2 linked regions of the Homo sapiens genome follow. The protein of the gene in region 1 purifies or fractionates together with the protein of each later gene. This does not show direct contact. Each region holds a gene or a part of one and is shown on either strand. Other genes may lie near its edges.

Region 1 (3,500 bases):
TTTTCTTTGTATGATTTGTTTATAGATATTTTATGTTAGATTTATTTTTTATGAACTATAAATACAGACAAGTATATGTGTATGTTAGAATATGTATAAATATGTAATACATAAGCATGGTTTTAAAAATAATAACCACTGTCCCACTTAAGAAATACCCACTGTCCCACTTAAGAAATAGAATGTTACCAATATTTTCAAATGCTGTGTTTTTTCCTAATTGCATCTCAACCTGTCCACCTCAGAGGAAACTACTGTCCTGAATTTTATGTTTATCATTCTCTTGTTTTTCTTTTTAGCTTGCCAAATATGGATGAATCAATAAAGCATTAATCGTTATATATGTTTTTGAAGTTTATATTAGTGGAGCAGTATTTTATGTATTTTTTGATCCATTTTTTTATTCAACATTTTGTTTTTTACTCAGCATTTTGTATTTGAGGGTATCCATGTTGGGATGAGTAGCACATCTATTTTCATTGTTGTGTAGTGGATAGACTTCGGGTTGTTTCCGGTTTTTGTATCATAAACAATGTTGCCATCCTTGTATGTGTTTCTTGGTGTACTTGTGCAGGAGTTTTTGTAAGGAATTATATACCTAAAGTTGGTTACTGGATTATGTGTTACGTATATGTTCACCTTTTCAAGATGATGTCACATTGTCTCTATAGACAGACTATATATATGTGTGTGTGTATATATATATATATATATATATATATATATATGCCTCCCACAATACATTAGAAAATTACATTAGAAATAAAATTGTATTTCCAATTGACCAACACTGGTATTATCGAGCTTCATTTTTTAAAATAAATTAGTGGGTATAATTGGTTTTATGATTTTTAATATTTAACCCCTGATTGTTAGTGATGGTAAATATCCTTTCAATTATTTATTAACTATGTTTCTTCTTTTGTGAAAAATCTGTTCATGTCTTTTCCATTTTTTTTATTGGATTGTGTGCCTTTAAAAAACAAAATCTTTCATTCATTTTGGGTCTTCTTATATCCTGAACATTAGTCACTTGTACCTGGTAGATATTTTGTGATACATCGGCTTGCCTTTTTATTTTCTTTATAGAGACTTTTGATGAACAGAAGTGCTTAGTTTTAGTATAGTTGAATTTATCAGTTCTATACTTTGTAAGTTTTTTTTTTTTTTTGAGACGGAGTCTTGCTCAGTTGCCCAGGCTGGAGTGCAGTGGCGCCATCTCGGCTCACCTCAACCTCCGCCTCCCAGGTTCAAGCGATTCTGCCTCAGCTACAGGAACTACAGGTGTGCGCCACCATGCCCGGCTAATTTTTGTATTTTTTAGTAGAGACAGGGTTTCACTATGTTGGCCAGGCTGGTCTCGAACTCCTGACCTGGTGATCCACCTGCCTCGACCTCCCAAAGTGCTGGGATTACAGGCGTGAGCCACCACGCCAGGACTGTAAGGTTTTTTTGTATCTCATTTACAAATCCCTTCCCTAGCCTAAGGTCGTAAAGATCTTCTATAATTTTGCCTGAAATTTTTAAGTTGATTGTCAGAAAATTATTTCTGATTCTTTTTAGGCAATAGAGCATATGTTCTACAGGAGAAGCATGGTTGTGGCTGATTCAGTTTCACATATAACACAGCACCTTCAACATCAGGCTCTTCATTCTATTTCTGTGGCCAAGGTATGCAGCTTATTATGTATTTAGCATAAGTATGTTATCTTTTTTGTTTGTTCTTTCATTGTTTTATATGTGTTTTCTGGTTTAACCTGTTTATTCCATTCCTTCAAACATAATATGCTCGGTTATTTATCTCCATAGTATTTTACAATTTTTACTTCAAGTTATTGGCATTATCTTTACTGTGAAATTGCAGCATGTAATACATTAATACACTTCTAAAAAGACATTGCACTTTTGAAATTGATGCATCATTTAAAAAATGATTTCTTAGTAAATTAACATGGAAATTTTAAAGTATGCCTAATACATTTGCTGTTTCTGACAGTACTAAGGGATCATATTACAGAAGTAAAGTATAAATGTCAGAAGCTTAAATGGGGAAAGTATTTGTGTATGCTCTCTTAAATTGAATCATGGAAAAGATAATCAAGAAGTTTTTCTTCTGAGTCTTTTGTTACTGCCTCAGAAACAAATAGTTTTCCTGTTTTATTTTTAAGAAAAGAGTGATTTCTGACAAAAAATACAGCGAACAGCGTCTTGATGTGCTCTCTGCTCTAGTTTTGGCTGAAAACACTCTAAATGGACCAAGCACAAAGCAACGGCGACTTATTGTTTCTTTGGCACTAAGTGTTGGCACACAAATGGTAAGTGTATTGCTATTACTTATGGAACAGAAATGAGATCTGAGATTTCACAGTTCCCTTGTTACTGACCCTAGAAACCTTTGACTGCAACTTCTCTGCCTTTTTTTCCTGTCCCTGATAGAAAACATTTAAAGATGAAGAACTCTTTCCACTTCAAGTAGTCATGAAAAAACTGGATCTTATTAGTGAACTTAGAGAACGGTAAGTAGGACTGGGATATGCTGTGGTACTCCAAAGACAGGGTTAATAGAAACATTGATTTTCTTTTTAGCATAGCAAGAGAAGAAATAAAATTCAGATCGAGCATTAGTTCCTTTCTGTAACTTCTTTAGCATGACCAAAATGAGATTGTGACTAGGGATCATATTTATTTAGCTTTGCTTCTACAGGAAGCATGTAGCCCCTAGAAAAACTCACATGAGAAAAAGCAGTGCAACCTCAGAGCATCTGGCCGACTTTGATGCATATCGTGATTATTATGTTGGGTATCTTTATTGGACTTAAATTGCTGTATTATAACAGGGCTTCCTCTATTTGTGTGAGACTTAGCAATCCATGATACGTAGTGTTCTATGATTTTATTTTAAGACACGAATTTGAATTAACATTGTTGAATTAGTTTTTGGAAGGCTTATTTTTGTAGCTCCTTCTGGCTTTCTTGTTTTCTTTTTGTTGAGTAAGCGTAAATTTCTTGAAGGGAAATTTGAATTTTGGTTTCCAGCTGAATTAAGGTTACAGCACAATTTCCATTTAGTATTCATATTTATAACTTACTTTTTTGTTGTTCTGGAGAAGCTGACATTTTTCTTGTTATTGGCATTTAATTTTCCACTCTTGGAAGAAATATTGAGCCTTTTTCATTATAAGATAGTTAATGATCATTCTGTTGCCCTTTAAGGTGTGAAATAGTCACTTGGCAAAGATTGTAGACATGTTAAGTGTGGGTTTTTTTTTGGGGCGGGGGGGGTCACAATTTTTTTTTTTTAAAAGATTTTTCTTTCCAACTTAGAGTCAGGGAAAATGGAGCATGTGATGCAAGTATTTAAGTCTAGTCATAGCAAATAATATTGAAAATGAGTTTGTTTTTATTTACCAAAACCAAAAATGGTCAATAAATGTTTATTTTAAACTCTGATATTTGAATATTATGCATATCATTTTTCAAGTATGGTTTACAAAAGCATA
Region 2 (3,500 bases), on another chromosome or scaffold:
TAGGCAGGGGGAAGAGAGACAGAGAGGGGACACTGTGGAAGGGATTGGGAAGGACTGTCATAAGAGGGAGGGAGGTCTCTCATCCAGGAGGATGGGATCCAAGTGCCAGATCATGGACAAGACCCAGAAATGACAAGGGAACCCCAAAGCTGGAAAGGGAAGACTCGGATTCAAGGTGAGTTAAAACACCAGGGTAGAGGAAGACCCCCAGTGCCAAGAAATGAACTCTGACCCTGAAGAGGGAACCTGCAAACGGGATGGAACATGCCAGAGGTAGCACGGGTGCCCTTGTGCTGGGGAGGGGCGACGCTCCCACCAGGGCTGGCCTACTCACTGCATCTCCTCCAGGTGCATGAGCAGCCGCTCCGCCACGTGCCGCTCCCGGGCCTCGTAGCTGGCTCGGTCCCGCCCAACCCAAGCCTCCAGCTGGGCCAGCTCCTGCTCCCAGGGCGTCATGCCCATGAGCCGCTTGGAACGGAAGTCCTCCAGCTGCCGGCCCACGGCTACCTGCTGGCTTTGCACCACCTCCTGCACGAACCGCCGCTGGACATCCTCGGAGATGAGGTCAGCCCTAGTGCGGTCTGCAGGGACACACATGGGGGCTAGGGTCCAGCTCCCTGGTGGCTTGGACCACGGTCCCCACCCACCCTTGGACTCCAACAGCCACACGTCCTGAGGCCGCTGCCAAGAAGGAATGAATGAATCTCGGCTGTCCGAGCAGAGCATGGGAGTGCGGCCTCCCTCCCCTTGGCCTCCTGGGAGGTGTGGTCCCCGCTAGACACCTCTCCCTCATCCCATCCTTCTCCTTACCAAGTTCAAAGGCGACGTTGGGAGGGACCGGCACCCGGAGAACCTGCTCAAGAGAGAGAATGGGGTGAAGAGGAGGACTTGGTGTGCTGAGATGCAGGCCGGGAGGACTGCCAGGAACCCTGGTCTAAGCGAGGGTGCTGGGGAAGGCCTGGGTCAGCAGCTGCCCTCAGGGCAGAGGCTGGGGACCGCATGGTGACTCTGCAGGCCCAAACAGGGATTGCAGGGTTGGGGCAGCTTGAAGGTCTCTCACCGCTGTCTTCTCCAGGAAGCTGTGGTAGAAGTCCAGGAAGGCCTTCTTGGCCTCCTTGGGGCCCAGTGAGCCCAGCATGTCGGCATGCAGACAGCAAAGCTGGGGGAGACACACAGCATGACTCTCCGCTCCCTCACCCTGCCTCAAACCACACTCTCCCTTTGAAAAGGGCCTTCCTCACCTCCTGGCCATCCTATGGCTGTGGGACTCAACTGCCACTTCCTCTGGGAAGCACTCCCTGACCTCCACCCCTAAAGCCAGGCCCTGGGTTCCCCTGCAGGCTCCCTGGGGCTGCCATGAGCATTTTCTAATTTTCCATCCTGTGCTATGGTCCTTTGTGGTTCTTCATCATGGTCTCCTCCCGGCAATAATGACAACAACTACTACTACTGTCTATACTGACGGCTTAGTGTATACCAGACACGGCTCTACACCCTCTACATGCATTAACGTGTTCAATCATAGGGACCGTCATTATCCCCATTTTACAGATGAGAAAACGGAGCTCAAGAAGTTTAGTCAAGCTTAGTCGCACAACTAGGCTAGGCACAGTGGCTCACACCTGTAATCCCAGCACTTTGGGAGGCCAAGGCAGGTGGATCACATGAGGTCAGGAATTTGTGACCGGCCAGGCCAACATGGCGAAACCCTGTCTCTACTAAAAATAAAAAAATTAGTCGGGTGTGGTGGTGGGCACCTGTGATCCCAGCTACTCGGGAGGCTGAGGCAGGGAGAACTGCTTGAACCCAGGAGATGGAGGTTGCAGTGAGTGGAGATTGTGCCACTGCACTCCAGCCTGGGTGACACAGAGCGAGACTGTTTCATAAATAAATAAATAAATAAAACCCAAAATCACATAGCTACTAAGTGGCAAAGTTAGGATTCGAATCCAGGCAGCCTGTCTCTACTACACTCCACTGCCTGGAAAGACTGTGAGCAGCTTAAGGGTTTGTGTGTGTTGAGGGGTGTTGTAGGTTGATCCATCTGTGTCCCAGATGGTGGTGCCTTGTGCATACTGAGGGCTTGGAAAGAACAGGTGGACAAGTGGGGCTCACTCTGTCATTCGTCAAGCATTTCCTGAGTGCCCGCCCCTGTTCTGGGTGACAGTGGGGACTCCAACCTGTCCTGGCTCCTGGGGGCTCTCATCTGGGAAATGAACTCACTCCAATGGGAGTGGGACTTTTTCTCCTTTTTCTTTTTTGAGATGGAGTCTCGCTCTGTCACCCAGGCTGGAGTGCAGTGGCGTGATCTCGGCTCACTGCAACCTCCTCCTGGGTTCAAGCGATTCTCCTGCCTCAGCCTCTGGAGTAGCTTGGATTACAGGTGCCTACCACCAGGCCTGGCTAATTTTTTTTTTTTTTTTCCGCCTAGGCTGGAGTGCAATGGTGCAATCTCGGCTCATTGCAACCACCACCTCCCAGGTTCAAGTGAGTCTCCTGCCTCAGCCTCCCGAGTAGCTGGAATTACAGGTGTGTACCACTGTGCCTGGCTAATTTTTCTATTTTAGTAGAGATGGGATTTCACCATGTTGGCCAGGCTGGTCTTGAACTCCTGACGTCGGGTGATCCACCTGCCTCAGCCTCCCAAAGTGCTGGGATTATATGCGTGAGTCACTGCGCCTGGCCAATTTTCATATTTTTAGTAGAGACGGGGTTTTACCATGTTGGCCACGCTGGTCTCGAACTCTTGATCTCAAGTGATCTACCCACCTCAGCCTCCAAAGTTCTGGGATTATAGGTGTGAGCCACCATGCCCGGCCCCACTTTTTTTTTTTTTTCAAGACAGGGTTTCACTCTTGTCGCCCAGGCTGGAGTGCAGTGGTGCAATCACTGCAGCCTCAACCTCCCAGGCTCAAGCTATCCTCCTGCCTCAGCCTCCCAAAGCGTTGGGACTACAGTCATGAACCACCAGGCCCGGTCCTCCTTCTCCACTTTAAACAGTTTTAACACATCTATATCCACTCTTCACACCCCCCAAATATAGCAAAATTCTAAGACAGGCCAACAGGAAGCTGCCCAGGGGACCACAGCTATCTCTGATCGGCTCCCCACAAGCTGATGAGGTGAGGGAGCTATGCGAGAATAAACCTCAAAATGCCCAGAGGCCGCCGGGGTCACCTCAGGCAAGTCCCTGACCCTCTCTAGGCCTCGGTTTCCACATCTGTAAAAGAACATGGTAGTCAGCACGATCCCTGGGCTGATGTCCACAATCTGGTGTTCTAGAAACCCCAAGGCTTGAATAGGGGACTCCCTTGCTCAGAGGGCCAGAGTCTCCGTGCATGTGGTTGTCGGGGGAACCACTCTTCTGGAAAGAGAATGTAGACAGGGGAAAGACTGCAATTTCCTAATTTTCTGCATATCTGATGGTTTGGCGTCCGGATGACCAGCCTCTGGTCTTGCAGCTGACATGTTCTTCTTTCTGCATGCCTCGGGCACTTCTC

What was found. The genes of interacting proteins can lie anywhere in the genome.
Region 2: the proteins of WASHC4 (region 1) and ARHGEF1 fractionate together in Homo sapiens (co-fractionation; one large-scale study listed by BioGRID). This does not show direct contact.

Annotation. Positions count from the first base shown.
Region 1 is NC_000012.12:105,138,731-105,142,230, forward strand, and holds part of WASHC4 (WASH complex subunit 4), read left to right. Parts: intron 1-1,563; coding exon 1,564-1,671; intron 1,672-2,168; coding exon 2,169-2,315; intron 2,316-2,436; coding exon 2,437-2,516; intron 2,517-3,500. UniProt on the Homo sapiens protein: Acts as a component of the WASH core complex that functions as a nucleation-promoting factor (NPF) at the surface of endosomes, where it recruits and activates the Arp2/3 complex to induce actin polymerization, playing a key role in the fission of tubules that serve as transport intermediates during endosome sorting.
Region 2 is NC_000019.10:41,889,684-41,893,183, reverse strand, and holds part of ARHGEF1 (rho guanine nucleotide exchange factor 1), read right to left. Parts: intron 1,160-3,500; coding exon 1,061-1,159; intron 854-1,060; coding exon 811-853; intron 582-810; coding exon 335-581; intron 1-334. UniProt on the Homo sapiens protein: Seems to play a role in the regulation of RhoA GTPase by guanine nucleotide-binding alpha-12 (GNA12) and alpha-13 (GNA13) subunits. Acts as a GTPase-activating protein (GAP) for GNA12 and GNA13, and as guanine nucleotide exchange factor (GEF) for RhoA GTPase.